4 linked regions of the Homo sapiens genome follow. The protein of the gene in region 1 interacts with the protein of each later gene in a pairwise test. Each region holds a gene or a part of one and is shown in the gene's direction. Other genes may lie near its edges. The genes, in order: VSIR, CLRN2, SLC35B4 and CNIH3.

The links.
Region 2: the proteins of VSIR (region 1) and CLRN2 interact in binary tests that used the Homo sapiens proteins (3 or more experiments, as listed by UniProt).
Region 3: the proteins of VSIR (region 1) and SLC35B4 interact in binary tests that used the Homo sapiens proteins (3 or more experiments, as listed by UniProt).
Region 4: the proteins of VSIR (region 1) and CNIH3 interact in binary tests that used the Homo sapiens proteins (3 or more experiments, as listed by UniProt).

Annotation. Positions count from the first base shown.
Region 1 is NC_000010.11:71,756,521-71,763,520, reverse strand, and holds part of VSIR (V-type immunoglobulin domain-containing suppressor of T-cell activation precursor), read left to right. Parts: intron 1-1,494; coding exon 1,495-1,923; intron 1,924-2,596; coding exon 2,597-2,653; intron 2,654-7,000.
Region 2 is NC_000004.12:17,510,865-17,518,167, forward strand, and holds the start of CLRN2 (clarin-2), read left to right. Parts: upstream 1-4,300; 5' UTR 4,301-4,402; coding exon 4,403-4,655; intron 4,656-7,303. Other genes in the region: QDPR (dihydropteridine reductase), read right to left, coding at 1,086-1,190. UniProt on the Homo sapiens protein: Plays a key role to hearing function. Required for normal organization and maintenance of the stereocilia bundle and for mechano-electrical transduction.
Region 3 is NC_000007.14:134,299,908-134,306,942, reverse strand, and holds part of SLC35B4 (nucleotide sugar transporter SLC35B4), read left to right. Parts: intron 1-168; coding exon 169-271; intron 272-2,088; coding exon 2,089-2,138; intron 2,139-4,832; coding exon 4,833-4,914; intron 4,915-5,121; coding exon 5,122-5,182; intron 5,183-6,681; coding exon 6,682-6,791; intron 6,792-7,035. UniProt on the Homo sapiens protein: Antiporter that transports nucleotide sugars across the endoplasmic reticulum (ER) membrane in exchange for another nucleotide sugar.
Region 4 is NC_000001.11:224,731,310-224,738,344, forward strand, and holds part of CNIH3 (protein cornichon homolog 3), read left to right. Parts: intron 1-3,253; coding exon 3,254-3,397; intron 3,398-7,035. UniProt on the Homo sapiens protein: Regulates the trafficking and gating properties of AMPA-selective glutamate receptors (AMPARs).

The DNA of each region.
Region 1 (7,000 bases):
GGGTCCCAGCCTGCCGCCGAGGGTCCTGGGCTCTAAGGGCAGGGAAGGGGCATCTGAAGGAGGATGTGGCATTATATTGGTTCTGGGCAATGCCCCTGGCTGGGGCAATGAAAAGGATGTATCAGTTTGGATTCTGTACATAGTTCTAACCCTCCTTCCCTCTCTGCTAGACCCACAACAGCCTGACATGCCATTTAAAATAAAAATACCACTGGCCGGGCGTAGTGGGTCACACTTGTAATCCCAAGACTTTGAGAGGCCAAGGCAGGAGAATTGCTTGAAGCCAGGAGTTCAAGGTCAGCCTGGGCAACAGAGGGAGACTCCGTCTCAAAAACAAATAAATAAATAAAAATAACACCAACGCATAATAATTATAGCTATCCCTCAGATGTCTGCAGAGGGCATTAGAGCTCACATCTTGTGTTCTCATCTTTCCCTCATCTAGTCCTTTTGCAACCCTGCATTGTAGCCAATAGTTTTCTCACTGCACAGAGGAGGAAACTGAGGCTCATACAGTTAGATAGAAACGCGGCCTCTATCCAATATTCTGTTTTCAAAAGCTCATGGTTTTGAGGGTCAACCCAATTAAATGCTGGAGGATTGGGATAAGGCAAAGTGGACCAGGGAATTGCTTCATTTGCTTGGTGAAAAAAACCAAACAGAACTAGACAGTTTTCTAAGTTTGGCTGGAAGGACGTGCATGGATGAGATGACCTTTCATATACTCTCTGTCCCGGTCCCTCAGACACTGGGTTTTCCCATTTTCACACTATCTTGCCTAGGACACCCTTTCTACTGGCTGAAATCCTATCTATGCACCAAGTCCAAAGACTCTCCCTCCTTCAGGAAGTCCCTGACTGTCCCCAGAAGGCTGTTTCCTCCCTCCTCCAAGTGCCCTGAGGGCTGGCATTGGATTGCCTTTGCCATGGGGTTCTGCTGTCGGGAATGCAGGCCTCGTCTGCTCAAGGGGAGGCCATGCATTCAGCATGCAGGTGAGATGCAGCACCTGGCCCAGGCCTTGCACACGCAGGTGCTCTCTTAGTGCTCCCTGGCAAGGATGGGAAGGCATGTTCAGTCCTAGGAGTAGGAAGGGGCAGAGGTGTTGATGGCCCCTACAGAGCGGCCAAGGACAAGGAGCTGCTGTTCGAAACAGCCTTCCTGCTCCCCAACCTGCCTCCCACCCAACAGGTTTTGCATATACTCTACTGGGAAGAGGGACACACCCGACTGCATCACTGCCCTCCAAGTCTCTCCCTGCCCTGTCCAGCATCCAGGAGCACCCCTAGTTGGGGAAGCTTCTGTGACTCCCCCTACAACAGCCTAGGATGGAGTGGGGTTTGTGAACAAATGCAGAAGGCAGTCTTAGGGAGGTCAGCTGACATGCCCCTGGCCTGTGGCTGGGAAGTAGCAGAGGCTAAGGTTCTTCCCCGCTCTGGGGTTGCCAGGAGTAGCACTGGATCAGTCAGGTGACAGGGCTCTCCTCTCTCTGAGCAGGTCCGGTGGCAGCCTTCAAGGTCGCCACGCCGTATTCCCTGTATGTCTGTCCCGAGGGGCAGAACGTCACCCTCACCTGCAGGCTCTTGGGCCCTGTGGACAAAGGGCACGATGTGACCTTCTACAAGACGTGGTACCGCAGCTCGAGGGGCGAGGTGCAGACCTGCTCAGAGCGCCGGCCCATCCGCAACCTCACGTTCCAGGACCTTCACCTGCACCATGGAGGCCACCAGGCTGCCAACACCAGCCACGACCTGGCTCAGCGCCACGGGCTGGAGTCGGCCTCCGACCACCATGGCAACTTCTCCATCACCATGCGCAACCTGACCCTGCTGGATAGCGGCCTCTACTGCTGCCTGGTGGTGGAGATCAGGCACCACCACTCGGAGCACAGGGTCCATGGTGCCATGGAGCTGCAGGTGCAGACAGGTGAGGGCATCCTGCACGTGACAGCCTGGCGTGTGTGGAGGGCTGCCTGTCTGATGGTGTGACCATTCATGACACTGTGCTGGGCAGAGTGTGAGGCTGCATGGGTAACACTGGCACTCCAGGGAGTGTGTGGGTGAGATGGGGTGGTCAAGGGTGTGTGGAGTGTGGGTTTGTAGTTAGCTGGAGTGATGGAGAGGGAGGGTGTACCTGGCTCCATTTGTGACAGTGAGACTTTTTAATGTGTGAGGCTGTAGGTACCTGGGCTGGGAGTGTGACTGCTCATGATGACATCATGGCTGCTGTGGGTATAGGCATCAGTGGGACTGATTGGTGCCCTGGGGCATGACTCAGTGGATGGCTGAATGGCTGTTGGAGAATATATGCGTGTGTGTGTCTGTCTGTTCAGGTGAGAGTGCAAGGGCCCATGGTTCGGATAGAGGTGTGGGCACCAGCGGGTATTCACATGCCCCTGGGAGTGGCATGAAAATGGGCAGGGTGAGAACATGCCAGGGTGTGTGTGGGTGCACACGTGTGCAGGCTGCCACTGGGCCAACACTGCCGAGTAGGCACTAGCGTGAGAACCTGGGGCAGGAGGGGGACACTGGCCTGGACAAGCCTCCCTGGCCTCCTGGGCCTGACACCCACCTAATGGCCCTTCTGTTTGTTCCCACAGGCAAAGATGCACCATCCAACTGTGTGGTGTACCCATCCTCCTCCCAGGATAGTGAAAGTAAGGGACCAACCTCTTGCCCCTTTTGGGTTCTCTGTTTTCTTCTGTCCTCATCCTGCACCCAGACCCTGTTTGGAACTCTGGCCTCATCACCCCAAGCCCTCAGAACCCCCCGGTCCTCCTCCTTTTCTGCTGCTGCACATCCCTTCTGCTTCCTCCTTGGTGCAATCCCCAGAAGCCCACTCTCCTTCCATCTGCTCTGGAGTCTCTGCTCCTCTTGACTCTCTGGAGTGGCTGTGCCTTGGCAGTGACCTTTGGCCAGGGCAAGTGCCTCATGACAGGTACTGGGTGCCCCAGGCAGCTAAGTGCCGCCCTGCCCACCAGCCCCCTATGGCTTGGGAAGGCTGGGGGTCCTCTTGGCCTAGAATTAAACTACTTCAGATTTCTGTGTTCTGTGTTTCTATGTTCTTCAGATGTTCTCTGTTGCAGGGGAGGGAGGAGGAAGAGGTTCAGGAAGGGGAACAGAACTACCTTTCCTGAGTTCCCACTGTGCTGGGCACTGGACTAAGTCTTTTTAAGTATTATTATCTCAGGGATATATATATATATATATGTGTGTGTATATACATATATATACACATATATACATACATATATATGTATATACATATATATACATACATATATATGTATATACATATATATACACATATATACACACATATATATGTATATACATATATATACACACATATATATGTATATACATATATATACACACATATATATGTATATACATATATATACACACATATATGTATGTATGTGTGTGTGTATATGTGTGTGTATATATATGTGTGTGTGTATATATATGTGTGTGTGTATATATGTGTGTGTGTGTATATATGTGTGTGTGTATATATATGTATGTGTGTGTGTATATATATGTGTGTGTGTATATATATGTGTGTGTATATATATGTGTGTGTGTATATATGTGTGTGTGTATATATGTGTGTGTGTATATATGTGTGTGTGTATATGTGTGTGTGTGTATATATATGTGTGTGTGTGTGTATATGTGTGTGTGTGTGTGTGTGTGTGTGTATATTTTCTGAAACACGGTTTCACTCTGTTACCCAGGCTGGAGTGCAGTGGCGCGATCTGGGCTCACTGCAACCTCCGCCTCCCGGATTCAAGCGATTCTTCTGCCTCAGCCTCCCGAGTAGCTAGGATGAGATTACAGGCGTGCACCACAATGCCTGGCTAATTTTTGTATTTTTAGTGGAGCTGGGGTTTCACCATGTTGGCCAGGCTGGTCTCAAACTACTGACAAATGATCTAACTGCCTCGGCCTCCCAAAGTGCTGGGATTACAGGTGTGAGTCACCACGCCTGGCCTCAGGAATTTTTTTTTTTTTTGAGAAAGACTCTCTCTCTGTCACTCAGGCTGGAATGCAGTGGTGCAATCACAGCTCACTGAAGCCTCAAACTTCCAGATGCAAGTGATCTTCCTGCTTCATTCTCCCAAGTAGCTGGGACTACAGGCACGCATCACCATGTCTGGTGAATTTTTAAAAATTATTTTTGGGGTTAGGTGCGGTGGCTCACGCCTGTAATCCCAGCACTTTAGGAGGTCAAGGCAGGCAGATCGCTTGAGGCCAGGAGTTCGAGACCAGCCTGGCCAACAGGGTGAAACCCCATCTCTACTAAAAACACAAAAATTAGCCAGGCATGGTGGTGCACGCCTGTAGTCCCAGCTACTCAAGAGGCTGAGGCAAGAGAATCGCTTGAACCCGGGAGTCAGAGGTTACAGTGAGCCGAGATCGCGCCACTGCACTCCAGCCTGCTGATAGAGCAAGACTCCATCTCAAAAAAAAAACAACCCAAAATTTGCCTGGCATGGTGGCAGGCATCTGTAATCCCAGCTACTCGGGAGGCTGAGACATGAGAGCTGCTTGAACCTGGGAGGCAGAAGTTGCAGTGAGCCGAGATCACACCACTGCACTCCAGCCTGGGTGACAGAGCGAGACTCTGTCCCAAAAAATCAAAAAAATCACTTTTGGTAGAGATGCACTCTCGCTATGTTGCCCAGGCTGGTCTTGAACTCCTGGGCTCAATTGATCTTCCCACCTTGACCTCCAAAGTGCTGGGATTACAGGTGTGAGCCACCATGCCTAGCCTCAGGGAATTCTTATAAGAACTCTATGAAGTAGGCATCACCATCTTCTCTGTATCCATGGAAAGAGAGGCCTAGAGATGTATGCTAACTTGCCCAAGCTCACATAGCCCAGGGTAGCATAGCTGGGATCTGGCTGCAGGCCTGCTTAGCTCTGCATACTCACCTTCTTCCCAGCTTGGGGCAGTGCAGTGGGTAGCAGTTAGCCCCCCGGTGCTTGCCAGAGAGGTGCCCTACAGGGTAAGAGGGCACTGCCCTAAGGGTGCCTGGCGCTGAGAGGTTGGGTGAGAATACCCAGCAGCTTGGAGACAAAATGCAAGGGCACCTCCCTCTTCTGAGAAGAGGTCTTGGCTTCCACACCCCTCTATACCCTGTATGTGTCAGACATCCAGTGGGGACCAGCCCCTGCTAGGCCCTGGAGATACAAAGGCATCCAGGAGGACATGCACGAGGACCTAAGCCGGAATGGGGATCAGCTAAACCACGGACCCAACAAAACCCAACTCAAAGGCTACAGTGACTTTTTACTCAGCTACCCTTTTTTCAAACCAACAAACAGGCCAAGAGCAAAATTAGAACATGCATTTTGGTCAGAGCCATGTTGGTCAGGCTGGTCTCGAACTCCTGGGCTCAAGTGATCTACCCGCCTTGGCTCCCCAAAGTGCTGGGATTACAGGATTGAGCCACTATGCCCAGCCCCAGTGCCAGCCTCTTAATGTTATCCTTGGGAAGTAAGAGTGTAGCTTGACTATGAAATAACATGAAAGTACAAGTTAACCTGAGGTAGGGGAATGAGACTAGAGAAGTTGGTGCCCAAGGAGCTCCTGCATTGCTGAGGGGCTGTGGTTTCTCAGTGAGCTCAGAGAAGGGGTCTAGGCAGCTCATCTCCCTTTGAACTTCTTCCCACCCCCCAGCGCAGCAGAATGTGCTGTCTGCTTTCACCCAGCTTCCTCCCTGGGAAACCAGGCAGCCCAACCCTCAGCAGCCGAACTCCCTCCTCCATATATCCCCGTGGGCTACCAGGCAGGCCCTGGACAAAGGCCGCCTGAGCAGGCCAGGCCCCTCCCATCCCACCCTGCTGTGTCAGGGCCTGGCACACTCCTTAGTGCGGTGTCGGCAGCTACCTCTGCCAGCGCCTGATCACCTTCCCAGGATAAGCCTGGCTCTGGATGGTGAGTGAGTATGCCTGCCTTCCCCTGTGAGTGCCAGCCCAGGCACTGGCCACGCTTGGGGGAAGGGGTGGGGAACTGTGGCGAGGCTGAGCTCTGCAGAGATGCCTACGGCTTCAGAAAGCAGCTGGATCCACAGACTTGTCCCCAAACCTCTGCGCCCCTCTGCCCCAGCCTCAACTCAGCCCAGATCGTAAGGAAGCCTCAGGCTCTCAAAGTGAAATTAAGTCCTGATCTGATAGAGGGTCCACATAGGGGAAATCTCTACCTGGGGATAGAAGTTAGGCAGGGATATCTGGCCAAGCTCACCCTCCAAAGGCAGATAGGGAACAGGTATCAATGAGCACCTGGCAAAGCTCACAAAATGTTGCTTACTAGCCGTCCAGAGGAGACCTGCTTTGATCACTAGAAGAGAGTGCTTTGCAACTGGCTTCTCAAATATTGCCCACAATAAGGTCCTTTGATGGGGGTTTTGAAATACTGAGGTGTCTGGGTTATAGAATGTCTTTACTTTCAATATTCCACGTCAAAATGCAGCCTTGCTAAGATCTGCAGGGAACCTGCTGTAATGTGGAGCGGAACTTGCTTTGTAATTAGCATAGCAACTGTTCCTGTACCAGTGGGTACTTCTAAAGTGACTGAAAACAGTTTGTTCTCATTTGCAGTATGAACAAACCTCCTGAAAGCTTGTTTACGCTGTCGGATTGTAGAGCAAAACAAAAACAGCCTTTATTCCCAAACAAATAGCGGAAAGGCAACATTTAGACCACAGCCATTTACCTCTCAGAGCTCTTTGGGGCGAAGTTGACACTGTGACAAGGTATCCCAGCCCATCTTTTGGCCCTGGGAAAGGCTAAAATTGGGAAGGAAATGCGTTTATGTTGGTTGTGGTTCTGAGGGCACGTCTGTTCCCAGCTAAACTCCTGCAGTCAGCAGATGCCCTGAAATAAATCAAACCTCCTCATGCTGTTGGGACAGCGAAGCTTCGTGTACACCTTTTTGGAGGGCAATTTAGCAATAGCCTAAAAGAAAATGCACATACTCTTTGGCTCAGCACTTT
Region 2 (7,303 bases), on another chromosome or scaffold:
AAGCACTGAGCAGATGGGTGGCAGGAAGGGAGTGGTGTGACTGAATTCTTCAGAAGCATATTCCTGTACCAGATTCTGAGCAACAAGAAAACCTTGGTAAATGTACACTATTTGGGTGATGGTTACACTAAAAGCCCAGACTTCACCACTACACAACATATCCATGTAACTAAACTGTACTTTTGCCCCCTTCATCTATAAAAATTAGATAGTTTTTTTTTAAAGAAAATCCTGAAAGCCTTTTTCTGGTCCCAGGGGAACTCTTGCCCAGGCTGCTGTGCTGCTGCTGCTAACTAAGCTCCCAGAACGCTGCCGCTGGCAGTGTCTCCACCGGGAAATTGCTGAGGCCTGCTGAGCGGCTGAGGTCAAGGGTCTTTGGCCATGTATCAGCTCTGCTCCGACTTGCCGCCTCCTGGAAATTGACACCTGACTATGCAAAGTAGTTGAAATAGTCTTTGCAGAGCAAAGAAGCCGTCAGCGTTTTTCCGTGCTGAGCCTTCAAACTGTCAGATCCAATGGGGCTAAAAGAACAGGGGTGGGTAGTAATAGTAACATTAATAGACAGCATTTAAACAGTTTTTACCAGGCGTCAGGTAATTTATGTGCAACGACACCAATTATCTCATCTAATCGTCCCAACTCTCACTGTCAGAATCTCCGTTGTACAAATGGGGAAACCGAGGTCCTACGGCGTTAGGTAATCAATACGCGGTCTCATGACTAGTAACCGGGACTGGGCTGTCTCATTCTAGAGCCTTCCTTCTACACTCTCTCTCCGTCCTCTCACCCCTGCTCCCGTTCCTCCCCTTTGGAATTCTCTCCCGAGTCACGCCGGACTTTTTGGGTCTGGCGGAGGCCCACGGAGCACCTCCTTGCACAGCAAAGGCCCAGCGCCCTGGGACTGGCGTGCGCACGCACTCGGAAACAGGAATAGACGCGTAGACCTGTGCGCGCACGTGCAAGCAACACGAGTCAGGGGGTGCACAGGGGCCCCCACCTTCCTCTAGACTGCCCCCCGCCGGGTTCCACACGAAAGCCCCCGGCCACCCCCGCGGAGACCCAGCAGCCCCAGCCCGCAGCATTACCCAGTTGCGGGCCCGAAAAGCCTGCACGCATCGAGAACCCAGAGCGCCCCTGCCGCCGTACACCAGCACCCGGCGCGCCTCGCCTGCAGCCGCCGCCGCCGCCATCCTGCTCCTGCCAGCCCGGCTCCCGCAGCTCCGAATGCCTCGAGCCGGAGCGCCGCGCCCCGCCCCGGCCGGCCAACCCCGCCAAGAGGGAACGCGCGGCGGCCGCGCCCCGCTCCGCGCCCGCTGCTGCCGCCTAGCGCGCTGCCACGCTCGGGGCGCCCCGCCACCCGGAGGGACTGTAACTTCGGCCAGGCCCTGCCCCTGGGACGGGGACATCGGCGAAGCCCCTCCTCCCACCCGCCAGCAAGTGCTGGGCCTCGGGGCGTGCAGCGAGCCGGGCTAAGGGCGAGGAGGGTGGAGAGCGGGTGTTTTACGAGCATTAATTTGTGAAGTGTAAGCATGTAAAATATAGTATAGTACAATTTTCGACCACTGTTTTGGCAATTTTTTATTTTTAATTGTGCATCAAAATAGAGATTTAAGTATTCCCACCTGCCAAAAAAACAGAAGAGGTCGCTCCGCTCAAGGAGCTGAAAGTCCACCGCCGAGACGAGACAAACCACACTAGGTCTTATTTCTTCTATCTAACCGTAAATTTATACCCATTAATCCAAATGGCCCTTTTACTATATGCCACCCATCGCCAGACACAGATCCTGGCATTTTCTCCCTTGTATATTAGTTATTTCTGCCCATGGCCTGTATCTTTAACACAGAGCCTCTCATCTACAGCACTACTGACATTTTGGGCCAGATAATTATTTGTGACAGGTGCTGCCCTGGGTACTGTAGGATATTTACAGCATCCCTGGCCTGCATATACTAGAAATCAATAGCAAACCCCTACCCCTCACTCATAAGAATCAAAAATATCTCCAGATTTAACAGTTGTCTCCTAGGGGCAAATTCATCACTGATAGAGAACCAGAGCTCTAACACTCTCATAACCTTCTTGATAGCAGAACCCTGTATTACATACATCTTTGTGTCACTTCCCATCCACATATAACCTTGTACACAGCAGACACAGATGTTTGTTCAGTAAACTTGTGCCAGGTAAAGCATGCAGAAATATGTCACTAGAGAAGAGGATGCAGCCAGCAGCACATTTTGTTGTCAGAAGCTTCATTATCAGAAATAGAACTGCTAGGAGGCTGGATGGAGAGGAGAGCACCATCTATTTAGTGCTCCTTATATCCAAGGCACTGCGCTAAGTGATCTGCCTGTGCTATTTCACTTTACTCCACACGATAATCCTATGCAGATTAGAAAGCTGAGGCATGAGAGTCACAGACACTTGTCTGGAAGAGTGGGAATTTGAACACAGGTCTTCAATAGCTAGAGTTCCACTTAACCACACCTTTGTTCAGCAAGACAAAGGCTTGTTGGGAATCAAGTGTTTCCCTTAGAGTTTTTCTGAAAACAATTGCTTAACCCTCAAAACACCAAAAGTTGACACAGGTCCCTCACTGACGGCAGAAATATGACTCAATGATATTTACGCAAGTCCTGACTTGTCAAAGCATGCTTAATGTTAAAATAAGAACGTGAACTAACATTATTGATCACTTAATGTGCCAAGCAGTCTTCTGAGCCTTTTATATGTATTCTGTTATTTTTTACCAGAAAAACATTTGCTGTTTCAAAGTCACTGGGATGAAGATGAGCTGTTGTAATTCAAAGACCTGAATTTCAGCCCCAGCACTGACATCCAGTTTTTCATGAGAGAAATGGCTGAAATCGTGCATCTCCTGTTTACCTTAAAGGGTTGCTGGAGCATCAGAGGTGAGCAAGCATATGGTCAAAGCATTTTGCATTTTGTACATGGTAAAGTGCCACTCATCTGTATATATAGTAAGAGACAGGATCTCACTCTGTTACTCAGAGTGGCATGATCATAGCTCACTACAGCCTTGAGCTCCTGGGCTGGAGCAGTCTTCCAGCCTCAGCCTCCAGTAGCTGGGACTACAAATACACGCCATCAGGCCCAACTATTTTTTTTTTTTATTTTTTGTAGAGATAAGGTCTCACTACATTGCCCAGGCTCAGAAATTCTCATTTTTATTTTCATTGTGGAGTGGCCACTGAAGTGAGCCCCAGTTGCGAGGAAGGAAACTGACATTTCCATTAATGTGTCCCTCTGCTTCCTTGACACTCTCCAAGTGAGATTCCTGGGACCCCTATTGGTTAACAGTGCAACTTCCTGAACCCCCCTTCAGGCTTCTGTGACCAACTAAGAAATTTTACTGCTCCACTTTTGCCCAACTTTGCTCCCCAGAGATATGGATAGAGTGACTGTTGCCAGTCTCACATGATGTTAAGTTGATATTCAGGAATAAGGTAAAAGTCAAAATGTCAAAGTCCACAGTATAAGATAGAAAGGAAAGAATATTTCATTCCTAGTATCTACAGATTAAAAGGAAAGCCTAGATCTTCCACTATTAGAAGAGATGAATACCCCAGCAGTGTGGCTACTATTTGCTAATACACTAGAAAAACACTTTTCTCTCCCATTTCAGATAACGTAGAAGGAGGGACGGGTGAGAGCAATGTTAAGTGTTGGATTCCAGGCTACCCCAACAGCCACAAAGTAATTCTAGTCACAGTTTACCCCCAGCAGATTCACACAGTGAGAAATTCATAAGGCCCTATTTACACATTTCAATATTAAAGCCCCAAGAACCGGGGTCATTTGATGGTATTAATAACAGTCCTAAAGATTCTGACAGCAGTGACATTTCAGAGAAAGAAATGCCAGGGCACCCATGCATCAGCGAGATCGACATTTGATACTGCGCATTGTTGGCAATATTCAAGTGCTAATCATTCTGTTTTTGTTTTCCTTCTAACACATGCATTTTTTGAGATTGGTTTGCGTCTCTTAATCTTCAGAGCTACCTGATTTTGCTTATTACTAACTCCTTTATCATTACGAGGTCCACACCAGGGCTATTTAAATACTTGAAACGAGGAACAGTTAAACAGTCTGCTGAAACATTAGTCTAGGAGGAGATATAAGGTTACTTCCTTCAGTAACACACTCCGCTACATAGTCAGGTGAAGATTGTCTCTGTAGAGGCTTCTGGATGTGGTTGTAGGAAGCATGGACTGTGCAAGCTTGCGCTGAAGGAGGACGAGAGGATGGACCTACAACCTTGAAACAGAGTGTTTGGAAGAGCTGACCTTGGAGCAGAGCATTGCCGAGTATCTGAAAGATGTCAATGACCCTCGCTGCTGCTCGGAGACCTTGGGGATGACCTGCACCCACTAGCATGCCTGGATGGTTCAAAAAGGCGTGGTATGGGCTGGCGTCTTTACTCAGCTTCTCCTCCTTCATCCTGATCATCGTTGCCCTGGTAGTGCCCCACTGGCTGAGTGGGAAAATCCTTTGTCAGACTGGAGTGGATCTGGTCAACGCCACAGACAGAGAGCTGGTCAAGTTCATTGGGGACATTTACTACGGGCTCTTCCGAGGGTGTAAAGTGCGGCAGTGTGGGCTTGGGGGCCGCCAATCCCAATTCACGAGTGAGTATATTGGGAGCATGAAAGCTGATTCTAGGCACTCATTTTTGTTAATGTGTAAGAGTGCTTATGTCTCATTGTGGAATTTGGCTGCTGCCTCAACGTCAGGCATAATGTCAAAGTCCACAGTGAGCCAAGGGTTCTGGATCCACATCAAAAAGATCTTTCCTTCCTTCCTTGCTTCCTTTTCTTTTTCTGTAGAGATGTATAGAAACATTAGAAATAAGGATTTGTGCATTTTTGCAGTTTACCTCTATTAATTATGACTATTAAAATATTGAGAGTTTACACGTGTCAGACATTGTAAGCACCTCACGCCACTTGTCTCCTTAAAGCCTTACAACAAAGTTATACAGAAGGAATTGTTAATGTTCCCATTTTCCAGAGGAGTACACTGAGGCTTGGAGAGGTTACATAACTTACCTGAGGTCACCCAGCCAGGAAACAGTAGAGCCGGACTCCAGACCCATGCCACATGACCACAACAAGTGGGTGGAGGCTGCCTGCAGAACTGAACCTTTGGGAAGCATGATGACCCTTTCCACATCTACTTTTGTAAAAGCTTCATAGTCTGAGAAAATGCAAAGGGGCACTGTGCTTGGGTTCTGGAATCAGACTACCCTGGCTGAAACCCCTACTGGAAAGTTTACTGGTGGGGAGACCTCAAGCAAGGCACTTGCCTGTTCTCTGTGAACGTGAGCGGGCACCGACTTTGGCTGGCATTCAGTGTAGCATCAGAGCTGCCCAGGATGTAAGCAGAGCAGTCTGCACAAACAGGAATCCAAGCTGGACTTAGGAACGGGCTTCTGGAAAGGAAAAAACAAAACAGGCAATATTCTGCAAGCCTTTTGAATCGATGAGATCACTGGTGAAAAGTGTCTGCACAAAACCGTAATTAATCAATACCATGCCAATGTAGGGTGATACAGAATTGTATTCATTCCTTGATTTCTATATTTCAGTATTGTAGTAGTTTATAGAAATCTGGCCAAGGTAAATGTCGTATTAAATTTATAAGGACAAAAAGCTGGAACCGTTGACAAATATAATACAAATTGTCATCATTTAAACACACAAAAATTTACATTTGTTATGTATATTCAAGATCAATATGTCTGGGCATATTTATATTTACCTAGCAATTAGATTAGACCCTGGATATTGAACAAATAGCTCCATCAAAATTATAACATAAAACTTGAAAACACACACACATAAACAAATAAAAAAAAGAAATGCTAAAAGCTAACCATGACAACTACATGGACTACTCGATTCTGAACTAGATGCTTTGCTATAAAGGATGTCTTCGGGACTTTAGGGGTCAAGAAAACTTCCCCTTTGCACTCTGAAGGTTCTCTAAACAATCTACTGACAAAAGGCAGATTAATAGGGAAAATGGCTTACACATTTATTAGCATGCATAGGGGAAAAATCACAGAGTGATTGTCCGCTATCTCAATGGGGTACAGGTGGTTGTATCCTCTTCATCTTAGGGGAAAGAGAGATGGGGAAGTGTGGATGATTTTAGGGGACTAGTAAATTATTTTTAGGGAAATTCAATGGGCTTAAAGAACATACAGTGAGCTGGGACAAAGTCTGTTGAGCCCACAGAGCAGACATTGGTTTGTGACAAAAGTCTGTCCAGCTGTGTTAACAGACTTTAGTCTTTCTTCCTGTGATATGGGTACAATTAATGAACACTCAGGGAAGGGACCAGAGGTCTTTTTCTTTGGTAGGTCTGGATGTAGGCAGGTAAGGGAATGTCAGAGAACAACCTCATCCTGTGCTTATGAGACAGACAAAGAATGGAGAGACACGAGGGAGAGGGGAGGCCAGAGAGACCTTGAGACTTCTTCACAAAGCTTCATATTTTAGGGGTGTTGGTTTCTGAACCCCAACAGGTAAATCGTTGAAACTTGAATGGGGTGAGAAGATTAAACAGCAGTCACATGCCAGCATTAACCTAATGACCAGACCCCTGCCATTCCCAGCTCACAGAAATGTAAACTGCTTCGAGTAGGAAGCTGCAAACAAATGCATATTTTGTTTGAGCCTTGGAGGAACTCAGTAAGTACTTCTTGCCTTCCTCCTTCTTCCTTCTTAGAAGGACACCAATGGGAAACATTCCCCTGGGTTCATCTAACGTGGTCTGGTCTGGAAAGCATCAGAACCCTGTGAGAAGCATAAAGGACATTTTATTCTTGTCCCTGAGTAGGAGCGTATTTGAGAAGGTTTTGTTTCCTGCTGCCCTGGGGTTGTCTCAGAGGAGGGTCTGTAAACATCCATTCGCAGTACCTTGGATGTGATTCTCTTTCAAAGCATTCACGAGGAGCCTGGGGCCAGGTTCCTCCTGTGCTTGGCTGGCTTTACCCCAGTACAGCTCAGGGACACTGATAGTGCCAGTCTAGTCTCCTTTAGATTTACAGCTTTTAATTCTAGCACAGTGTAACCTCGAGGCAGCTACGGGGTATATCAGAGCCTCCCACAACCAGGAGTCTGTTTCTCCTGGGGTCTCTTTCTGCCATTCACTATCCATCTGTAGAAAAAAAAAAAAATAATCCCCACAGTCGCAGATCAGTGTAGATGGGGACGTAAGTGAAAATGCTTTGCAAACTCTGGGATGGGGAGGTTTATTGGGTCTCGTTCAC
Region 3 (7,035 bases), on another chromosome or scaffold:
AAGCGTTTTGATATGTACTTAGTAGTTGACATGGCATAATAGTGATGCAATCTTGCAACGCAGAGGAAACAGGCAAAATGCCTTTTTAGCCAAAAATATATATTTCCTATACTTGATTTTCTTGAAATCCTAGATTCTGTTTGATGAGCTGTTCTGTCTGCATTTCAGGTACTATGCCATAATGGTGACCATGTTCTTCACCGTGAGCGTGGTGAACAACTATGCCCTGAATCTCAACATTGCCATGCCCCTGCATATGATATTTAGATCCGTAAGTGCTGCCGGATCACGTGTATATGTTCCTCTGAAAAGTATAGTTAAGTAGATCGATTGAATATATGGCAGAACTAGAAGGTTCTTGTAGTAAGTGGTCTTGGGTAGAAGAATAGGTTTGTGAATGCGTGAGCAAGGGTGGCTTTCATCTGAGAAGGCAAAAAGAGAAATCTCAAAGTGGATGGTTTACTTTTATTCTTCTGAGGTCTAATGAGTGATTAATAAAAAGAAAATTAAATTTTCCCTAGGAAACAGATTTTACCTTCATTTTCCCTCATCTCTTTGATTTTATATTCAAACATGCTATTAATGTTATTTAACTTATTTCTTATCTCTTCTTCTTTCATAAAAGTACATTTACTTCTAGAACATGAAAGAGATACTTGTCTTTTCTGATTTTTTTTTTTTTTTTTAAGCAGAGACTTGAGATAATAAAGGGAAATTCTTGATGAAGGTAGGGTTTCTCCCAAAGCACTCCAGGCAAAAAAGGCTGATAATTGTGGTGATAACATTTCCATGTGGTCTGAGATTTTTGTGAGATTGTACTGTTCCTGAAGGGAGTTTCCAAAGCAATTATAATAAGGTGACCTTCAAAGCATTGAAAACATAGTGGACTTTCAATAAACACCTGTTGATTGATTGTCACCTTTTTAGAGAACAGAGAGATCCTTGCATGACTTTTTCCATTAAAACTGGTCAGGGGCTGTGCACAGTGGTTCAGGCCTGTAATCCCAGCACTTTGGGAGGCTGAGGTGGGTGGATCACCTGAGGTTGGGAGTTCGAGACCAGCCTGATCAACATGGGAAACCCCATCTCTACTAAAAATACAAAATTAGCTGGGCGTGGTGGCACACGCCTGTAATCCCAGCTACTCGGGAGGCTGAGGCAGGAGAATCGCTTGAACCTGGGAGGCAGAGGTTGTGGTGAGCCAAGATCGCAACATTGCACTCCAGCCTGGGCAACAAGAGCAAAACTCCGTCTGAGGGAAGAAAAAACTGGTCGGGGGTAGAAGGTGCAGGTAATGGGGAGAAACTTATTAAAAGCTCTTATAAATTAGGTGATGGAAATTTTGACAAAAATAAGTCTGTGATATCATTTATTCGTGCTAGCCCTGGCTTCAGCACTGAGCAATTACAGTTGACCCTTGAACAACATGGGTTTAAACCACGTGGGTCCACAAATATGCAAATTTTTTTCAAACAAATATGAAAATACAGTATTCACGGGATGCAAAACATGCCTATAAGGAGGGCTGATAATGACTATATTGAGAATTGATCCTTTTTATTCTCATTGTCATCTTTAAAAGGTTTTTTAAATATATATATATATACGTATATTTTTGGAGACGGAGTTTCGCTCTTGTTGCCCAGGCTGGAGGTGCAATGGCGCGATCTTGGCTCACTGCAACCTCCACTTCCCGGGTTCAAGGGATTCTCCTGCCTCAGCCTCCCAAGTAGCTGGAATTACAGGCAACTGCCACCACGCCCAGCTAAGTTTCGTATTTTTTAGTAGAGACAGAGTTTCACCATGTTGGCCGGGCTGGTCTCAAGCTCCTGACCTCAGGTGATCCGCCCACCTCGGCTTCTCAAAGTGCTGGGATTACGGGCGTGAGCCACCGCGCCCGGCCATCATAGTAGATTTTTATGGTTTATACTTTTGCCATCATAAGAACAACTAAATCTTTACTAATTATTCATCCTAGCTTCCTTCATTCCATGTTTTTTCCCCTTGCCCATGTTCCTATTCTCTCGAATTACGTTGTTTTTTTCCTAGTGCACTAAACCTCTCTGTTACTGTTGTCTCCTTTTGCAGGGTTCTCTAATTGCCAACATGATTCTAGGAATTATCATTTTGAAGAAAAGGTAAACAATACACTTCTGTATTTTGTGTATGGAAATGATACCCTGAGCCCCTGTCCATAAGCTAGTCACCTGGATTCCTTGTCCCAAAATAGTGATAAGTTTGCTTCTGGCCATCTACCTCTTTTCTTAGTTCTTTACCAGTGAGGCCCAATCATGCAATGTCCTGAAGCAGCTGATCAGGTAAGAGGCCACACCTGTGGTGTCTCTGTGTCGAACTGAATAGCTCTTGGCATCACTGAATTTTAGTGTCATACTAACCTGCGAAGCCAACTTACAAAGATGATAGAGAGGTTCACTGTGCAGTATGGTCACCACTAGCCACGTGTGACTATTTACATTTTTCAAAATTAAAGAAAATTAAATATTTAGTGTCTCAGTTTCATTAGTCACGTACATTTTTTTTTCTTTTTTTTGGAGACGAGGTCTCACTCTGTCATCCTGGTTGGAATACAGTGGTGTGATCTCGGCTCACTGCAGCCTCCACCTCCCAGGTTCAAGTGATCCTCCCACCTCAGCCTCCCAAGTAGCTGGGACCAAAGGCATGTGCCACCATGCCCGGCTAACTTTTTTGTATTTTTGGTAGAGATTGGGTTTCGCCATGTTGTCCCCGCTGGTCTCAAACTCCTAGTCACATTTTCAGTGCTCAGTAGACTCACAGAGCTGGTAGTGACCACGTTGGAGAGCCCAGATGTGGAACATTTCTAACATCTCAGAAATTCCATGGGATACTTCTGCCCTAGAAGATGCTTATCAGTACAGCATAGCAAACTAAGGAATGGTTGTACATATTAAAAAGGAAATTCCTAAAAAGGCCCAAATAGCCAAGAAGATGGAATGAAAGGTTCAGGACTGTTCTTTGTGACCATCACCAATGGCTCTCTTTGGGACAGGAGCAGGGGGGACAGGAGCAGGAAATACCAGAAGTACCTGGGATGCTTTTTCAAAGTTTTTGTCTGTCACCTTCATTCTGAGGTTCACCCCTCACTCCTAAGGAGGAAGGATGTTAGCAAGAGACAACACATACAGTTTGGGAAATTTATCAGGGAAAGTTCACTGTTAAGACCAAAATTATACAAGTTGATGGCAGCGTTTCAATGTATTTGATATCCAGCCCCAAGCTCTCTATACATGCTTGGAAAGTAGCTGTAAATTCAGAATGTGAGAACCTAGAGTTTTTAAGTATTAAGGGCTGTGTCATAAAAAGAACAATTGTCCTGTCCTACTAGGCTTCATATCATGGACCGTTTATCTCCTGAGGCTTATGAATTCCCTGAAAAGTACTACTGTAGTTGATTTCTTTCTTCTTGGTTCTCTGCATTTAAACATATATATATATATACATATGATGGTCAGGTTTATTACATTTGAAGTGATCATCATGCTTCTTATAGTGTGGAATTCGCCTTGGGACAGGCCTGTGCTCTTTCCCAACCTTTGATTCTGGCTCATGACAAGGATACAAAAGAACATGTTATAAGAGAAATTGTATTCTCCTGATAGTGCCCCAAAATGTTACGGGTCTTTCTCAAGCATCTGTTGCCCTTAAGAACTTGTTCTGAGTGTGTCATCTTGCATCTATCTAAGCCTTTTGACTCTCTTTTCTGTGTGTATCTCTTTCCCATTGAGCAGGAATTTCCATAAGTTAACTTTCCAACAGAGTAAATTAGTAACTTCTTATCTCCTTTTATCTTGGGTAGAAGCCCCTCAAGTTCATAGTGTGCTCCTCATTCCAGGATTTGAATATCAAATTTATATTCACCTTACCCATGCCTTTATTATTATTTTTGGCCTCAGTTGTAAACCTCTTCAGCGTGATCTTTGCAGACTGAAGAGGTTCATTATTTTTTACCGTACCTCCGCTCGTACCTGCTTCCTCCCCAACCGCTCTCTAGCGTGGTCCTCTTGGCCCTTTTAGTCCCTTTCTCTGCCCATTAGCTAGTTCTGCTGGCCTTTTATGAGGTACTGTGACCAGGACAATACTATGTATTTGAGTAGAAAACCTGGGATGGTTCATCTTCTTAATTTCTTTTAATCCTTGCCTGAGGCCTTTTGCTTGATCACCAAAAATCTGAGAGGGTGCTAATGATACTAGCTAATGTGAAATGCTACTGTTATTACAGCCCATAGTTCTATAATCTGAATATCCTCCCCCTTATCCAACTATGCCAACATTTTAAAACAATGTTAAGTCATTCAGAGATTTAAAAAAAACAAGCCTCCCCCAGAGAATGGATGATTGGATTATTTTCTGAGCATTGAATCCTGCTGCTTGCACCTGATAGCCTGTTTTTCCACTCGCACAGTGTGTCTTAGGACACAGATTTGGTCCCCCTAAAGACAGGAAAAGCAACAGATCCTAGTAAGGACTGGGTCAGCCTTTCATCTGGACTCTTGAGAGCAGAATGCAACATCACATCTGGTCTATTTCTGTTTTTGTCTCCTGATGAAATAATCGATTGGTCAGCAAATTGTTGGAGACAGACTAAACAGTACTAAGGAAAAGTGTTGGTTAGAAACTAGTCAGTATCCTGATTCATTCATATGCATACTTCTGTGGACTCTGCTGGAAAGTAATCCTGTCTGTCATACTTTAGTGATTTGTACTTTCATGCACCATCTGACTGTAAATATCACTGGGAAATTCATATCTGTGCTTTCCTAAGGTGTTTTTCTTCTTTTTTTTCTTTTTTGCAGATACAGTATATTCAAATATACCTCCATTGCCCTGGTGTCTGTGGGGATATTTATTTGCACTTTTATGTCAGCAAAGCAGGTGGTAAGAAGCTCACAAATTATTTTATGTTCACTACTTGCTATTGGGGCCCAGTTACCAGGCAATTAATACAATTCAAATTTTTATGTAATACAAAGATTTTGAAAGAGAAGAGGGGAGGGAAATGGGTAACATAAATGTTTCCCTTGTATGTCGGCACCTTGCACGTAGTTCTGCTCTCTGTACCTAGTTTATTTTCTTATTTCCTAGACTTCCCAGTCCAGCTTGAGTGAGAATGATGGATTCCAGGCATTTGTGTGGTGGTTACTAGGCAAGTACAATAATTATAATAAAGCTAATTGCCTCTGCAGTTGTGTTTGCTGAGTTTTCTCCTAAGAGAAATGTTTCTTGGCAAGAAGCTTCAGCTAAACAAATTATGCCATGGAAGAGAGGCACCTGGGATCATATTTCTCTGAGCCTTAGCGTTCAAGAAATGAAAAAAAGAAAATGCCCCCACATTCATGGCAGTATGTTCTACAACATGGATCCATGTTTTTCTTGGTTGCCACTGGTGTAGAAAGAAAAGTGTGTGTCTACTTGCACATCACATCCTTTGAATGTCATCCGTCTCTTCACGATCTGTCTGCCAAGTTGAAGCTTCTGCAAGAGGGCACGTTAGAGCAATTGACTCTTTAAATTTCCGAGGGACTCATTTCTAAAGACTTATTTTCTTCAGAGGTTAGCTGTTCCATATGGCAGTGTTCCCAAACCTGACTGATTATCAGAATCTCCTGGGGAATTTTTAAAAATACAAGGATCTCTGTGGAATTAAATAGGCAGCTCCTGTAGAGCTTTGTTCTCACATTTTTTGATATGGAGCTGAGACTCGTTCCAAGGGCTTTCAATGACAACAATAACGGATTGAGACTGACCAATTGGAAGAGAAATAGCAGTGAAAGAACTGTGTTCTCCTTGCTTCTTGGCTTTGAGACTTTATCCCTTGTTGCTGTTTGTAACATAGAAAGATCCTTATGTGCTATTAGAAAAATACTCCAGAAGAAAAATTTGCAAAGGATATGAACATATAGTTCATGGGGGAAATAGTAGCACCCAACAATTTTAGGTTCAGCCTCACTAGTCTAGTAATCAGAGAAATGCAAATGAAACCCATGCAATACCTTTTTATGTTGGCCTATCATACTGGCAAGATGATAAATGGTTATCTCATTGCTGCTGAGGGTACAGTAAAACAACTATTTTTATATAATAAAAATAGTTTGGGTATAAATGGACACAGCATTTATGGAAAAATATTGTGTATTGTATTTTTTAAATGTCCACAGCCTTTGACTCAGTAATTCCACTTATGAGGGTTTATCCTAAAATATATCAACATTTGTTTAAAGATTTGTATACAAGGATGTACATTGATTTTAATAATGAAATAATTGGAAATAACCATCCTCATACATTTAAGTGTGCTACATCCATATCATAGTCATTAAAAGCATTCTATTTAAAAAATTTTAATGACTGATTTGAAGCAAAATTCCAGGCAAAAGCTCATGAAAAAAGCAAGATATAAAATTCCATATGCAATCTGATCCTGTCTTAGTGTAAAAAAATTTACATAAATGAATATATAAGAAGATGTAGAAAGCTGTAAAGGACTAGATGGTAATAATGTATTTTTATTTCTTTTTACAGTTTTGTACATGTTCTACAATTAGTTCATAATATTTGCAGGACTTTAAACAATAATGTTCTTCAAGAAAAACATCTGGAAATGAACAAATGCAGACATCTTGTCACCTGATGTTTGTTTTTTAGGTATTGGGGCATTGACTTTTGCTCTTCTGATGTCAGCAAGGATGGGGATATTCCAAGAGACTCTCTACAAACGATTTGGGAAACACTCCAAGGAGGCTTTGTTTTATAATGTAAGCAACTTCCTGAACCTGGGAACGTGAAAATTCCTAAGTTGTAAAATGTTACTTCAAGTGAACTATTAATATTCTCTGATGTAGTTGAAGGTGTATTATTGGTAGATGGCTTTGAGACCCACAGACTGAAGCAGTTTTGATGGGATGCTCTGGTGGGTTCCAAGTCACAGTTCACTACATGAGATGATCACGATCAATCAAAGCAAATTAAATTGTGTCTGCATATTTAGCAAATCCTTTT
Region 4 (7,035 bases), on another chromosome or scaffold:
GATTTTCTGGGACAGTTATAATTTCATAGATTCTATTCCCTGCTAAGACCATGTGTCAGATCATGTGATTTTTGGCTTTTTGTAAAATAGAGTCACCATATGGACACAGGAGGCAGAGGTGGGGGAATATCTAAATAGTAGAGAAGGTATTTGCGCAGATAAGTTGCCTGCCCTTGACCCTTTGCTGCCAGAGCATTGGACCCCAAAGTGTTTTATCATTTTTATTGTACCATAAAATCTGGCTTGAATTTAGCCACACCTAAGACATGCACTCCTTCATTTAGAAAACATACGGGATACATAGTACACGCCAGGCATTGTGAGGGATTTCACGTTAAGTGTAAAGCAAAACCTTTACCCTTAAGGAACGTACATCCTAGTGGTGGAGGGAAATATGTTCTTAACAGACATATGAGGAATACTGGTAGGAGCATAGAGAAAGAAGCACTTAAATTAGACTCAAGAGTGACATTGGAAAAGCACATTCCAGGGCGAGGGCCCAGCATGTGCAAAGGCCCAGAGTTAAGAGAACACTTGTTGTGTTTGGGAAACAGTAGTTGCTCAGTGAGGTTGGATGTAGGGTTCTTGGAGGGAAATAAGAAGAGACAGGGTTGGCAGGCAGCTGAGAGTATGGTATGGAGGGCCTGAAATGATTTGATGGGGAAGGTGGAATTAATTTATTCTCTAGGTAATGAAAAATGATCAGAAGCTTTAGAAGAAGACAGTGGCATTACCTGATCTGATTTTTAGGAAGGTGGCCTGGGAAGCAGTGTAAAGGATGGGTTAGAGGGTGAAATATTGAGGATGAAATCCAATGAGGGGGTTATGGTGGGAACTCCAGGTGGAGAGGTGAGAGAGCCTTGACCCAGGTGGTGGGAGTCAGAATGGTGAGAGAACAAGAGAAGCTGTGGAGGTGAACTGGATAAGCCTTGGCCCATAATTGGGTGCAGGTGAGGGAGAGAAAGCCTCTAGGCTGCGTGGCCGGGAGGTCGATGGTGCCATTGACCAGGGCCAGCAGGGTAGAAGAAATCTCAGATTTAGGGAGGAAGGAAAAAGATTCGGTTACATCGAGAAGCCTCACTTTAAGTAAAGGCAATCTGCTCTCATCTGAATTAGAGAGAAGTCAAATAGAAGATCCAGGATTCACAACAACCAAGTGAGCTGGGTTTCATTTTCTGTGTTTGATACATGGGGACACAGAGACTCACAAAGGTTAAGTCAACTTAACCTGTGTTGCTCAGCTCGGACGTGGCAGGGCTGAGGTTACACCCCACCTCTGTACGAATTCCAGTCTGAGTCCCTGCCACCTGACACACTGCCCCAGGGGCTGGCTCTTCTCCTCCAGGAAAGGAGTTCGTCCCAAGGTCCTTCAAGTAGGGGGCTGTCAAGGCAGGGTATCAGAAATGTGATTAATGGACAAAACATCGATCAGGGCACTGCTTCGTGGGGCTAGCGCTTGTCCAAAAGGGAGGAAAAGGAGAGGCAGCCAGTGTCCGTAGACTAGGAAAGTTGATCTCTATGGAGGAAGGGAGGGGCTGCAATCTCCTTGCCAATAGGGACTTTGTCTTACCTTTTTTTTGAATCCCTGACAGGATCTAGTCTAGTTCCTGGCAATTAGTAAGTTCTCAGAACATGAAAGAAAAAAAAGAATGAGGAGGGGAGGAGTCCTTTAAAAACCAGAGCCCTTGTACACCCTTTATCCCCCTTTTTACTCCCCCTCCTTCCCAACAGGTCCAGACCAGTGACATTTCACATACAGAGAAAGTCCCCTCCTGCTCTGGCTCTTAGTTTGCTTAAAGGAAATAGAACTGTCTGCTGTTGACTCAGTACCTGTTCTTCCCAGGTTATTTGCATACATCGCCTCACATAATGGTCACAACAGCCCTTTGCAGTGGGCAATTCCATCCCCATTTCACCGATGAGAAAGTTGAGGCTCAGATGGGTTAATGACTGACCCAAGGAAAGTCAATGTGGTGACTGGTGACTGGCAGGGCCTTTGCTGTTTCCACGGAGCCACATGGCCACCCTGCCCTTCTGCCTCCACTTAATGAGGTCACCTGGGAATAAAACCACAGTGACAGCAAATAGCTTTTGAGATTGGCTCCCAGGAAGAGGAGAGATGAGTGGCCTGGAGGGCTGTGAGCTGGCAGTTGTCATCGAATCTGGCTTGTGATTTCTTTTCAGCACAGTGTCAGTGACAGATAACGTCAGTGCAATTCTCTGAAGGGGAAGGAGGAGGGAGCTGAGATTCCGGATCTGCGAGTTGCTACATTGCAGGATGTTCTTCAAAGCCAGTGTGATTAATCTCCCGGTCGGAGCCCTCTCCCTGGGCCCTTTACCACCATTGAGAACCACTGTCTGTCCCAGAGCCCAGGGAAGCCATTTATTTGCACTCCTGGCCTCTGGGTGGCTTTACCAGAATGACTGAAAAAGGAACTCACTGAGAGATTCCAGCTGTACTTTGTTCTTGGGCTCCGGCAGGAGGCTGTGGCCAGGTCCCTGGGGGCAGTGTCCTGGGGGCAGCGACCACTTCCCAAGGGACTCAGGAGGCTCAGACTCCTGCCCCAGGTCTCACCAAGCCTGACGGCTCCCCTCCTCAGGGGCTGTGGCCAGGTGAGCCTTGGGAACGTAGTATTTTGAAGTACACACAGTTCGCGTTAGCTGCTCCCCCTCCTCCTCTTTCCCACCTACGTTCTTTCACTCACCCAGCTGCCGTCCAGGGCACGCTGTCTCCCGACAGATGGCTGATGTTCTTTTTGAGTTCTAGGTCCCACTATCAAGAAGGAAAGCACCTGTAAACTGCTCTGCGCTCAAGTGAGAATAGGATGTCCCGAAGTATTCAGGATTTTCAATAAGGGTCTGTGTAAAGTAGTTTTAGGGTAGAATGGAGGTATGGTGGCATCCCAGCAGTGGTGGTATAGCCCTTTACCTCTGCCTGCACTTGTCCTGAGAGGCGGCTCTTCCTCAGACTCCTAGGCAACGCCAGGTGACACATTTCCCCTTCTGTTGGAGCAGCTTTGTATATGGGTGAAATTGCCATGATGCCAGTGGATTGGAGTATTTGGGGATTTACTACCTGCTGGAAGATAGTGGCTGAGCCACTCTTCAGCGGTGCTTCAACTGTGATTTGGGCAGAAGGCAGGCAATTGCTTGGCAGGGATTGCTCGACAGAAGCCCTGCATCGGAAGGGTTTGCCCAGGTTACGCCAGAAGTACCAGGACCTCAGAGACAATGATGTCCTCTCTCCCTGCAGGTATTTCCACTGTCCAGCAGATAGCTCAGAACTAGCCTACGACCCACCGGTGGTCATGAATGCCGACACTTTGAGTTACTGTCAGAAGGAGGCCTGGTGTAAGCTGGCCTTCTATCTCCTCTCCTTCTTCTACTACCTTTACTGGTGAGTATCTGCCCCTCCTGGTGGTTTTGACTCCTGCAGCAAAAGGAAGAGAATTTCAGGCTGGCCTCTGGGAGGCGTCCTTTGGGAGATGGCGTGCGAGGGTGGGAGTCATGGCCATTCAGGTGTAGTCCCAGCTGTCTGACTCTGGCTCAGGAGCAAGGGCTTCTGTATAAACAAGTAAGGGGGCAGGAGATCCTGCAGGAGGCCTTGCCTGCTGATCGGCACATCCTTAGGGCCACGCAGTGAAAACACCCTCTCAACATCCCTTTGGAGATAACTGGTGAAGTGCAGTTGGCTACTCCTTCTTCCCTATAGGGCTTCCTGCCTCTCACGACTTTGCAGCTCAGCCCAGCAGGTTGCCTGTGGCCACAGGGGCTCAGGCTCATCCTCACTGTCCCTTGCCCCAAGGATTCTTGGGAACCATAACAGAGGCCCCAAACTCCCCACCCCAGCCCCACAGTGGCTGTCACGGTTCATAAAGTGGCATTTTGTGTCGCTAAATGCTTCATTTACAGTTTTCCCAATATTACATAACACCATTCCAATTAAGAAAAACCTGCTGACTTTGCAGTCCTGTTTCAGGAGTGTCCCTTCTTTTCACCTCTCCGCTCAGAACATCCTAACTAAGCAGATAGCTATAAACAGACTGTCTTGTGGTTTGACACCACAGAGAGTGCCTTTTCCGCAAATGTCTCCTCCTCCTTCCTGCTCCTCTTTGGCTCATCTCTGGGGACTCTCACCTGTCACTTGCGATTCCATCATTACCTGTGGCAGGGCCATGGTGATCTCCAAACCTCCCGGTGATGTCTCCAAAAGGGCATGGTTGACAGCAGCCAGGTGAAGAGGAGGAGGGGTCGGGATGTTGGACTGCACGCCACCCCTAGGTTTGGATTGGGCTGTGGCAGGCCAGAATGTGGCTGCATTTGTCCAGCATTTTTTATTTTTTATTATTTTTTAATTTTTATTTAAAGATGGGGTCTCACTGTTTTGCCCAGGCTGGAGTGCAGTGGTGCCATCGCTGCTCACTGCAGCCTTGAACTTGGCTCAAGTGATTCTCCCACCTTAACCTGAGTAGCTGGGACTGCAGGTGTGTGTCACCATGCCCGGCTATATTTTTTTTTTTTAATTTTAAAATTTTTTGTAGAGATGGGGTTTCACTGTGTTGCCCAGGCAGGTCTTGAACTCTTGGGCCCAAGTGACCCTTCTGCCTCAGCCTCCCAAAGTTCTGACATTTAAAAATGAGCCAGGCTTTGTGCTCAGAGCTTTGTACGTATCGCTCAATTTATAAGATAAATACTATCCTCACTCACATATGAAAAATGAACTGAATCTGAGAAGTTAGATAATTTTCCTGAATTCCAGCTATTAGTGTCACAGCTGTAAGTAGTACATCTTGAGTCCGATTTCAAAGACTGAACTCCTTTTTCCTTTTTCTTTTTTTGAGGGTATCACTCTGTCTCCCAGGCTAGACTACAATGGCAGGATCATAGCTTGCTGCAACCTTGAACTCCAGGCTCAAGGGATCCTCCTGCCTAAGCCTCCTGAGTAGCTGGAATTATAGGCATGTACCACCATGCTCGGCTAATTTTTGTATTTTTCTGTAGAGACAGGGTTTTGCTATGTTGCCCAGGCTGGTCTTGAACTCCTGGGCTCATGTGATCTACCCGCCTCAGCCTCCCAAAGTGCTGGGATTACAGGCGTGAGCCACCGTGCCCAGTAGCTCTTAACTGCTGGCTATCTTAGAAAACCTCTAGAAAAGTCTTCATCAAAGTGTGGGGTAAGGAAGGGAGGAAGGTGTGCTTTTTAAAAATGCAGATTCCTGGGCTTATAGCTACCTATTCAAACTTTCCAGGGCTGGGCTCTGCGTTTTAAACAAGCTCTCTGGACAATCTTGGTGCACACCTTGGTGGCTCTGGAGCATTCTACTTGGTTCTGCCTTCCCTCCCCTTTACATCCCCAGTGTCCGCAGACTCTGTGGGGTGCTCTGGGATGTTTACTGCTCCAGCCTGCAGGGAGCCTGACGGTCTTTGAAGCCTCCGGAGATTTCTACGGTGCCCAGTGGGTTCACCTAAGTCTTTCTGACTCCAAGTCTGAACTATTTAACAACCAAAGGCTTGTCAGATGGGTTTCTGTCTTGGGAGACCTACAGAGTGTGGACAAAGCCGCCGTGGGCTTAGGGACTTGCCACCTTGGAGGTTAGGTTTTTTCCCTGCAGTGTGCTCAACCCTGCTTTCTTTGTGGAGCCACAGACTTCCCCTTCTGCAGAGTCATGGGCTGAGTGGCCTGTCCCCAGAGACAGCACTGTCTCTCCTCTAAGCCAACAGAATGAGACCATTGTTTTCATTAGCTCCTGCCCCTTTAGCCTGGGATCCACCTCAGTGTGGATGAAGACAGAGGCGAGACTTTCCCTCATTTCAGTTTTGTTGCAGTAACTGCTGGAGCCGAGGCGTCGCAGGGAAGAAGCCATATGAGTTCACAGGGAGGGAAGCGGCTGTGCGTGCTCCGCTGCGGGGGTGGGAGGGGGTGGGGTAGGGAGGTCTTGGCAGCTCCTCTCGGTTAGATGGGTGTGATTGTTCTGTAACCGAGTGTGTTCCAGACAGTCTGTTTGACTGTTTGTCCTCTAATTCATTACTTCAGTTTGGCCCTGCCTTCATGATACATGTGTTAATCACTCTGTTTCTAAAACAAAATTGGAAACAGTTCCTGCAGCCTCACTGGGACCCTGGGTGGCCGCCACGGGCACCCACATTCTTTGTTGAATCTGGCCCCTTGGTGCTCTTTGGGGCTGCTTAAAAGACTCTGTTTCTCCCACCTTAGGAGCTGCCAGCCCCTCAGATCCGGAGCTGGTGGAGAGCACAGCAGCGTCAGCGCAGGCCACCGTGGGAGGGAGGGAAGGGGACTCGTGTATGCAGAGCCATGTCTGAACTGAGCTCAGGGCTAGAGACCCACACAACAGCGGGGAAGACGGGGTTGATAGTTTATAGTTTGAGCTCCCTGAGGGGCTCCTGAGGACTTCGGAGAGGTTAAGAAATGTGTCTCAGGTCCCTGCTAATAATTAGCAACATCTGGCTTCAGAGCCTGTGCTCTTTCTTCTATCCTGTTTGAACCGCATGGCACCCATCACCCCACTTCTCAGGTTGCCTTGTGGACCAGGTGATATTTGAGGGTTGTGTTAGAAGGGGACTAGCTAATGCAGATACTAATACTAGCTAGTGAGCCCAGTGTGAACAGTGTCTGCTCTGTAGAAAGATTTTTTTCCGACCTGAAGTAGTAGGACCACCCTCCTGCGTGGTTATTCTGGATCATGCCTGTTCCTCCTCAGGTTTATTTCTCTCCATCTATGTTATTTATGATTTACTTGTTCCTTGACACTGGAGACCATGTTGGTTTCATTCACCTCTGCGTCTGCAGTGTCCTGGCCCGTGCCTGGCACTCACTGAATCCTCGTGGTTTGTTGTTACAGCTTAGCTGTATGCTTCCTCAAGGCAGGAATTGGGGCTGCACACTCACCATTTTCCCCAGCACTGAGAATAGTGTCTGGCATAACGAATGAAAGTGAGTAAACAAAGGTATCCACTTGAGGCTTAGTACTGTTATGCAAAAAGCACTGGCTTTGGAGTTAGAATGTGGCTTCTCGC